3 separate regions of the Homo sapiens genome follow, and regions 1 and 2 are each reported to be linked to region 3. Evidence: microRNA targets listed by miRTarBase, many of them from high-throughput screens and not tested one by one. Region 3 holds a microRNA gene; each other region holds the end of a gene's coding sequence.

Region 1 (3,000 bases), not on the chromosome of region 3:
CTCCCTTCCAGCGAAGTGGTGAAATTTGGCCGAAATTCCAACATCTGTCATTATACTTTTCAGGACAAACAGGTTTCCCGAGTTCAGTTTTCTCTGCAGCTGTTTAAAAAATTCAACAGCTCAGTTCTCTCCTTTGAAATAAAAAATATGAGTAAAAAGACCAATCTGATCGTGGACAGCAGAGAGCTGGGCTACCTAAATAAAATGGACCTGCCATACAGGTGCATGGTCAGATTCGGAGAGTATCAGTTTCTGATGGAGAAGGAAGATGGCGAGTCATTGGAATTTTTTGAGACTCAATTTATTTTATCTCCAAGATCACTCTTGCAAGAAAACAACTGGCCACCACACAGGCCCATACCGGAGTATGGCACTTATTCGCTCTGCTCCTCCCAAAGCAGTTCTCCGACAGAAATGGATGAAAATGAGTCATGAACACAGAAAGTCTAAGAGGAGAAATATGATGGATGAAGAGCTCTGTAGATGCTGTATAGACACTAAATAAGAGTTGATTAGGGTAGTATATTATAGTCATCTGTTATGCTGTGAAATTTGGAATTCAGTATTATCATTTTGAAGTCTGTAAATTGTGTTAGTCATTAACTTAGTCACCTGTTGTATTCTGGATCTACACAAAATTATTTTAACTGCTCTTATTAATCTGTGAGGATTAATATACAAAAAGTATCCTTTGAGATGAAGTCGTGTTCTCAAAATAAGGTTATATTATTTTCTTTTTCTGCTTGATTTTCATCTTGTGTTTTGCTTTGTTTTTGTAAGGAACCATCTCTTGGTTTGGTCACATCAGTTCACAACAGCCATTTGTTTTCAAGGTCAAGGCTCCAGGCAGGTTGTTACTGGTGTTTGCAGCCTGTCAGTACTTGCAGTACTGGAATAGGTTCTAGGCTAGTGTCTGCGCGTCACTGTGGTTTTAGCATGGGAGGACTTATTTGAGAAATACTACCTTACTTTTCTATGATTTCTTTTTACAGAGTTATAGTGTGTTTACTCCTAAGATGACAGTTCTCTTTGTCTATATTCAGCATCTAAGACAAATATTTAAACATTTTAAAGAACCACTGTGTTAAGTTTAGGATTATTTACTTACCAAATTAGAAGTTTGACTTTTATGTGTTATACACAATCTTAAAATTTCACGAATTCACCTTTTTAATAGTATCCATGTACATAATAAAATCAAAGTTTAATTAGCCATTTTCTTTGAATTTTTTTCTAAATAAGGGAAATAACTGTTCTTGGGCCACTTTACAGAGATAAATGTATGTGAATGTTTATGATAAACGCTTAAATATTTCTAAAATATTAACTTCAAAAAAGTCTTTTTCAGTTCTTAAATAAAAATTTATTTATTTAAGATACTTATTCGACTTATCTTAACTAAGGTAGCTATGAATGTTAAGTAGATGAGGTAACCATTCAGTTAAGTTAAATTGTAGCATTGCCAGGTAGTGAGGCTCACTGTACAATTTTCCAGGTAAATGAAATTTCCTGTAGTAAGAGGTCCGTATTTTTGTAACAGCCTTTTAAAAATGCTTTTGGGAACCCTCCAGCCTCTTACCAAAAGAGGCTTTAAACCTCATCTTGATTCAGACTGTCAGTCTATTCCTGGGCAGTAGTATGTGATGTCCAGCACCCTAACCCCGACTCCCCAGCCCTGGGACTATTCCAGTAGAGTGAAATATTTGTCCCTGTACAAAGTGGCCTGAATGACTGTTGGAGTTCCTGTGTCTGGTTTTCCTGTTTATTCCCTGTGATGCCCAGAGTAATGGCCCATCCAAAGATGTCCAGATGTCCATGTGCTAGTCTCCAGAACTTGTAACTGTGTTGTTATGTGGCAAAGGGGAATGAAGGCTGCAGATGGAAGTAAAATAGATTATGCTGGATTATCTGGGTGTGCCCAATTGATCACCGGATCCGTAAAAGTGGAAGAGAGGCAGATCAGGATGTCAGCGTGATGAGGTGTGAGACAGACTTGACTTGCTGTTGCTGGGAGGAAGGGGAGGTCATGAGCCAAGGAATGTGGACAGTCTCTTGAAGCTGGAAAGTGTGCATTGGACATCTGGAAGCCAGAAAAGACAAAGAAATATCCAGAAAGGAACAAAGTCTTGTGGACACCTTGATTTTGGTCCAGTGAGAATATGTTTGACTTGTTAACCTACAAAACTTTATGATGATAAATTTGTGTTGGTCGTAAGCCACTAAATCACAGTAATTTGTTATAGCAGCAGATAGAAAACTAATATACTCCCTTTAATATAAGGTTATCTACTATTGATTCTTTCTAGGATTTTAGCTTCTGGTCTGATGTGGGTTTACAGCCAGATCACCCGGCTTGAATTGCTTACAGTGTGTAGTCTCATGGTAAAGGCGTTCTATGAGTGAAGTGTATATACTTTAATGTGTGTATACTGTCACATTTTGACTATTTTGGAAGACTTTCACCTCTGTTTCTTGTCTTTGAGGCTGATGAATGTGTTTCTAAGTTATAAATTTAATATTAAGGGATTCATGTATTATTGTTATTGAATCCAAACAATGTGTTAAGTAATATTTAGGGCCAGAAAAATCTTGTACAGAATAATGATTTCTCCTAATGTAAATCTTGGAAAGGGTTTTGTTCAACTTGAGAAATATTAAATTTTTTATTCTATTTTCTTTTCTTCAAAGATTGGCAAAGGAGAGAGTGGGTTGCTAAAAGTTTATATTGTTCTCCAAAGAATAGAAACACTTTCCATAGCCCAACTCCGGTAGTAAATAATAATGAACGCTTTAATAATGAAAGAGCAATTGGTTAGTATTAGAATTGTTTTGATTACAAAGTTAGCATCTCTGCCTGAGCTACCCAACCCCAAAGCGGGGTTGTTAGAGGAAAGCTACCATATTTCATAGAACCGAGGAAGGAATGCAGCAGACCTCAGGTGAGATTCGAATGCTCTGGCTCTGACCCTCAATGCATATTGGCTCCATGGCCACCTGTAG
Region 2 (3,000 bases), not on the chromosome of region 3:
TGATCTGCCTGCATTGGCCTCCCAAAGTGTTGGGATTACAGGCATGAGCCACTGTGCCCGACCGTGGGTTTATTTTTAGTATGCGTTCTTGCAATGGTAAGTGGGAATTTATATTTCACCTTAAAAGAGTATAAAATTAACCGTGGTCTTGAAGTAGGTTTTAGGCACTTTTCATACCGAGTTAAGTCAAAACATTCTAAAAGTAAGTATAAAACTAAATAAATAAATGATCTTTAAAGATAATGTGAATCATTAGTCTGATGAAATGGGATTTTGTGACCTTGTAGTAACTGGACTGATATTACTATATCCATTATAAATGTCTAGTAGCTGAATTTCCAATGAGAAACTCCTCTTCTCTCCCCAACAGTGTTAAGAAAGGATTTTCAGTAGCAAATTATTTATCCAAAGCTATTTTCTTTACAATGAAAGATGAAAAATGGTTATAATGATATTCAACTCTAAAGAATTTCAAACTCTATTTATAAATAAATAAAAGTATACCTATAGAGGTAAAATCATTATTATAAGACTCTTCCTGATTTTAGGACTTTGAAAGTTTGTTACTTGGAGGGACAAAATCTATTTGAGGACTCAGACTATGATGGGACCTAGCTCCACCATTAGAAAGCAACATTAAACCAATGTGACAGTAAAAGAAATGCAGGCCATAAACTGTTTTTTTTAAATATCTATATAAAAAATAATGAGCAATTTACAGATCTTTCTCTAATCAGAACCTCAAGTGTATATATAAAGGTACTGTACAATATATAAACATTTACAACCAGTACATCCACATTTTGCTCAGCATTCCAAGGCCACATTGCTAAGTCAGTATATAATCAGTACAGAGTTTACTTAGGAAGAACCACATAGGACAACATATGACATCAAAGTTATGTCACAGTTAACAAAAATAGGATTCGTTATCACTAATTGTGGACTACAGGGAAAATAATAAATAATTTCTGTGGTACTAAATTCTTAGTATTTATCAAGCCTCCTAATTTTGCTCTATTTGAATAGTTACAATAGGTGGGTAAATATAGTTCTGGATGAAAAGGGGATTTCAAAAATCTCACTCTGGGAAGCATGTCTTATCTACAGGGGCTAATTGAGTTGTTGGGTTAAAGAGTTTCACAGTCAGACTCCCAGAGGGAAGGACCTGGACCTAATGTGCTTCACAACAAGATGAACCCAGGTGACAGAACAAGTGTGTTCACACACTCCATAAAATAGTTTTATTCTCAGAAGGTGCCTTTATTTATATAGATGCTACTGAATGCTGCTTCAGGGAACTGAAAAACCTGGATCTATTTTATGGAAGTTGTTAACAGTCTCCAACTTCTAAGAAACATCTTTAACTAGACTTTTAAAAAGAATTCTGAAAATGTGTACAAGTTAAGCAGATGTTTAGTCTCCCTTTCTTGTTTTTAAATAAGAAAGTTAGTTAATGTAGCTAAAAGTTAAATAAGATCCAGTAAGTACTGTCTACACATTTGTCCTCATTTGCTGGGCATACCCTACACAGGTTGTTTTTAAACACCCAAGCTTGTGCACCTGCTACCAGAAGAGTTGGTACTTGGACTGTGAAACTGGTTTCATGATTAAGTCCCTCACATAATCTATATAATATGTTTACTTTTCAAATATGTATTATGTATTAAAGACTAATGACTTTAGTAGTAGGTACAGCCAAAATATCCAGAAATAGTTGGTGGTTTTTCTTCAAAGAGCAATAAACACTATTTCCACATGCTTCTTTATGGTTTCATAATTAAATAACTGAAATAAAAAGGGTGACCTGAGATGCTGTAAGTATACATCGAGGTTGGATAACACAGCAGGAGATGAACTCTATTGCTTAAAGTACTTTCTTATTTCAAACATTCAATTGTAAGTAATATCTTTAACAGTTATTTGAAACAACTTATCCAGCCAAATTAAAATAAAAAGCCATAAGAAAGCATCAATATTGGACTACATTTTTTTTTTCCTTAAAGTAGTGATGTTTGGGGGTTTTATTTTTAAAGTGGGACATCATCAGTAGCTGTTAGAAGAGACAACGGCCATCTTTAACGATGAGTTAACAGTCTCTTCTTCTGCAAGGACTCACATATTTCTCTCTGTAAACATGCAACATGCTATTGAGATCATCAACTTCCAAGCCAAACCTAACTTTTTCATTACTGTGGAAACAGCTGAACAAAAAGGATAAAAACAGACATGATACAGTAGATAACTTGGCACAAATACAAAGTGAGTTGTGACCACATTGTTAATATCAACATATGTCATTTGTTCAGACACTCATGAAGACGAGCTGGGCAGCCTGAGCAGGGCGGGTCAGATGAGCATGTGGATGCAGCTCCTTCCTGAGAGCGAGGGAGGGCAGCCGGCCAGGGGGACAGTTGGTTCTTAGCAATCCTAAAGGCCCTTCATGCAGCCTAGGTAACTTGAGGCTCACATTAACATGTACTTATCTGTTTCAGAATATCTGAAAAAAAAAAAAAGGCTTTTTCTGGAAAAATGCTGCTGTAAGAAAAGATTACAACTTGTTTTTCTTTGTTTTATACTAAAGGTTACTGCCGTTTCTCAGCCATACCAATAGTGCCTGTGACTTTATTTCCACTTGGAACCTTCCAGGGCCCTGGAGTTATCAGTGTTTTCTTAACTGGAGAACTGCTTTCCGGTTTGAACCTTCCAGTCTCTTTGTTTTTGTCAGCTGCCTCTAGTTCTTTCCCTTTGTGATCTTCTGTTTTGTTTGAAACTACCTTCTCTTCAGGTTCTTGCTTCAGCCTCTTTTCTGATAGCTGGACATTTTCTCCTATTTTATCGTTACTAGAACTTGTTTCTCCTGTGGTTACTTTCTTTCCTTTTTCATTTTCAGATACTTCTTTACTTGTAGTCTTATTAGTCATTTTGGATGGAAGAGATTTCTCAACCATTCTTTTGATTTTTTTCTCTGGAGACCTTGTTCTGCTTTTTTCCAACTGA
Region 3 (3,272 bases):
AATGTTTGAGTGACTTATGAATCCCTAAAATTAATTCCATTAAAAAATGAAAAAAAGTTCTCTTCAAGAAAAAGTAAATGTTAAAATCATCCTCCCATTTGGTGCTCTCAGTAAATGAAATGTCTCAGACCATATCTTTATAGCTCTTAACTGAGTAATCACATTTGTGGGAGAGGCAGATCTTGAGGGAAATCTACAAGGTTGTTTAACTTCCCGACCTTGACTTAGATATTATTAACTTGCATGAAGTTCAGTTCTGTAGCAGAAAGCACATGGTAAAATGTGCATTCCTTTGTCTGTTAAAGAGCCCAGGAAACATTTTTACAGTGTATTTAATATGTGTAAGGAAATAATCACAGCCCTCCACTAAACATACAATGCAAGTATTTTCCTTCAAAGTCTGGTAGCAACCCTGTCCAATACCAGGACAGTAAGTAGGTAAACATGCAGTGAGCTTCATCCATGGCGGCACTACTTGGGGGCACTTGGTGGGGGACAGGGGGCTCACCTTTTTCAGGCATCTAGATCAGGCAAGCTACAGCCTGCTGGCCAAAGCTAGGTGATCCCCTCTTTATAAACAGCCCATGAGCGAAGAACAGTTTTTACATTTTTAAATGTTAGAAGATGGAGCAAAAGGAGAATACCATATCATGACACAGGAAAATTATATGCTATTCAAATTACAGTGTCCATAAATAAAGTTTTATTGGAACACAGTCATGCGCATCTGTTTACTATTGCCTATGGCTGCTTTTGTACTTGGACAGATATCTTATGGCCCTACAAAGCCTAAAATACTTACCATCTGGCTTTTTACAGAAAATGTTTGCCGATCTCTGCTCTAAAATTAAGCAGTTTAGCAAATTGGGTTTCCAGGAGGTCAATGGGAACGAGCCCTGGGCTAGAATTCCCAACACCCAGCTCTGCTGGGGATGTGACTCCACTCCATTGGACTGGAGTTTCCTCCTCTGTAACATAAGAGGGCTTTGCTGAACGAGCCCTTCCAACTCTTAATCATCTATAGTGTATGTTGATTCCAGTCTATTCAATGGTTCCCAGGTGCCAGTGGGATAAAAGTGCAGAGCTCTGGTCTGGGACAAAGCCACAGGATTAGAAAGTGACTGAAATAGACAAAGAACTGGATAGTTGCTGTGCGTATACAGAGCAGATCTGAAAAGTGACACTCTACAAGGTTCAAAAACATATACTTTGGACATCTTCATGTGCCCTAGTTTTATAGATTCTTTTAACCGTGGGGAAGAAGGAAATGGTTGAAACTAATTATTGAGGAAGGCTGGCAACCCCAAAATTCAGGTTTTCAAAATCTAATTTAGCACTTACTGCGGGTTCGTTGAAATTAACCAGGTAATTGACATCTCTGGTTCTTTTAGTAGTAGGGAAGAGTTTCTGTTGTCTTTTCTATTTTCTCAATACTAACATGTAGTTCTTTATCTGCAGTGCAAGGCATCACGGGTTGTTAGCATCGGCACGTCAGCCTGGGGTCTGTCACTATGGAACTAAACTGGCCTGCTGCTACGGCTGGAGAAGAAACAGCAAGGGAGTCTGTGAAGGTAATTTTGTAAAAACTCAGACCCTGCACTTGGATCAGGGCCCTTAGGTTTTTATCTGTCATACCATGAACTGCCACAAAATTGCCAGTGGATCTCTCAGGCAAGGACATGCATAACTACCAATAACCAAGGTCTGGGTTCCTATGAGATCTCTTCCCAGACAAAATGTGGCTGACGCCATCATACTTGGCATGATTTATTTTAGAAGACTGTCTTGTCAATTATTTTTGTGATTATCTTAATGAGTATGACTGGGTTGTTTGTTTTTGGTTTTCTTTTTAATCTAAAGGAACTAAGATGGGCAAAAGCAGGCTGGTAAATTTCTCCTCTAATTATAATTTAAGTGATTTCCAATGCAATAAACTTTAATTATTAATCACCCAACCAGTAGGCTTCAGCCACAAAATAAGTACACCTTTTAGCTTATAGATTTGTAACTCACATTTTTAAAATTCATACTGCCAATTTCTAAATGCTTTCAAGGTACATATGCATATATGCAAAGATTTTAAGTATTTTGCTGATTTTTTTGTACATTGCAAACCAAGGAACCATAATTTGCCTTGGACATTGTTTCTCAGACTATGTGTTAGGAACTCCGAGAGAGGCCTCTGATCATTTCAAGGAGGTTGGGAAGGGCAGAGATGAGCATAAAGTTTTTGCCTTGTTTTTCTTTTTATGACTTTCCATAACGACCAACACTGGCAGTGTAGCAGAACCAAATCCACATTCCTCCTGACTGTCTCACCAGGGGTGTATTCCTTCAGGGCAGTAGTCTACTCTCACTGTCCCTGTGTCCTTCAGTAGGTAGCATGTGCCTCATCCTAAGTTATTTATCTATTAAATGGGATAACAACACAGTTGCAGGTCCCATAAAAGCACTAACATGTTAGCTATTTTTAGGAATAACAATGCTACCTTCTTTTTGCTAGTCTGTTCCTGCCCCAACCTCCTTCTCTCTGGCTGGTTAAAAAATATCTGGATTGACCATAAGTGGGGTCAGAACTTGATAATATCCAAAATCTATAAAACAATAGAAAACATTGATATCGTTCCCACATGTTCCATATTATGCAAAACCTTCTGCCATCATAGTTTGCTTGTGACAAGATGACAAGAGCATAAAAATACTAGACAAAAACAAAGATCATCATTGCCCACTTAGATAAAGGAAGTTAGAATATCCTCCTGGGACTTGTGTCAATTAAAAGGGTGGGTCCTCATCCTGATTGGATTGATAGTGTCATGATCAAGGGCATTGAGAACCAGACTGACGTGGGTGACCTTGGGCAAGCTAGCTAAGGTAAGCTAGCTAAGGCTCAATTTCCTCCTCTGCAACCTGGAGAGAGCAATACCTACCTCTGAGAGTAAGGAATGTATGCATTAAAGGGTGAGTTCATTACCTGGCATGCATAGAAAATACCTCATAAATTACCATTCCTTCAGGAAGGACCAATAATTCTCATCACAGACTTCTCGTCATTAAAGCACCAGGTGATGGGGGGATTAAATGTGGCTTTATTCTTTTGCTAGACACAACATAACACATTTTTATTTGAAGTCAGTCAGGTGGAAAGGGGCAAAAACCACGTGAAACACATGATTTAGAGTCTCTCTTACAGTTGCACGAACATCAGCGTCTACTGCCATAAAACTTGTGAGACCCAGCATGTCGCTGGTGAATAAATGAAGGCAAGGTGT

What was found. The annotated mature microRNA hsa-miR-6086 reads GGAGGUUGGGAAGGGCAGAG and lies in region 3 at 2,196-2,215, shown strand. An mRNA with a match to its seed (bases 2 to 7 or 8) in the 3' UTR can be bound and repressed. Matches are read on the target gene's strand: a 7mer-m8 pairs with bases 2 to 8, a 7mer-A1 pairs with bases 2 to 7 and ends in A, and an 8mer does both.
Region 1: the mRNA of TIFA is a reported target of hsa-miR-6086. Seed matches in the 3' UTR shown: 7mer-A1 at 1,594-1,600.
Region 2: the mRNA of MAGI3 is a reported target of hsa-miR-6086. Seed matches in the 3' UTR shown: 7mer-m8 at 1,831-1,837.

What each region holds. Positions count from the first base shown.
Region 1 is chr4:112,275,297-112,278,296 of GRCh38, reverse strand. TIFA (TRAF interacting protein with forkhead associated domain) reads left to right here. Exons shown (of 2, transcript NM_052864.3): 2 at 1-3,000. The coding sequence ends at 435. Among named protein-coding and RNA genes, the nearest start is that of TIFA, 9.1 kb to the left of the region's middle.
Region 2 is chr1:113,683,600-113,686,599 of GRCh38, reverse strand. MAGI3 (membrane associated guanylate kinase, WW and PDZ domain containing 3) reads right to left here. Exons shown (of 21, transcript NM_001142782.2): 21 at 677-3,000. The coding sequence ends at 2,586. Among named protein-coding and RNA genes, the nearest start is that of PHTF1, 74 kb to the left of the region's middle.
Region 3 is chrX:13,588,098-13,591,369 of GRCh38, forward strand. MIR6086 (microRNA 6086) reads left to right here and starts at 2,195; the gene lies at 2,195-2,249. EGFL6 (EGF like domain multiple 6) reads left to right here. Exons shown (of 12, transcript NM_015507.4): 2 at 1,459-1,571.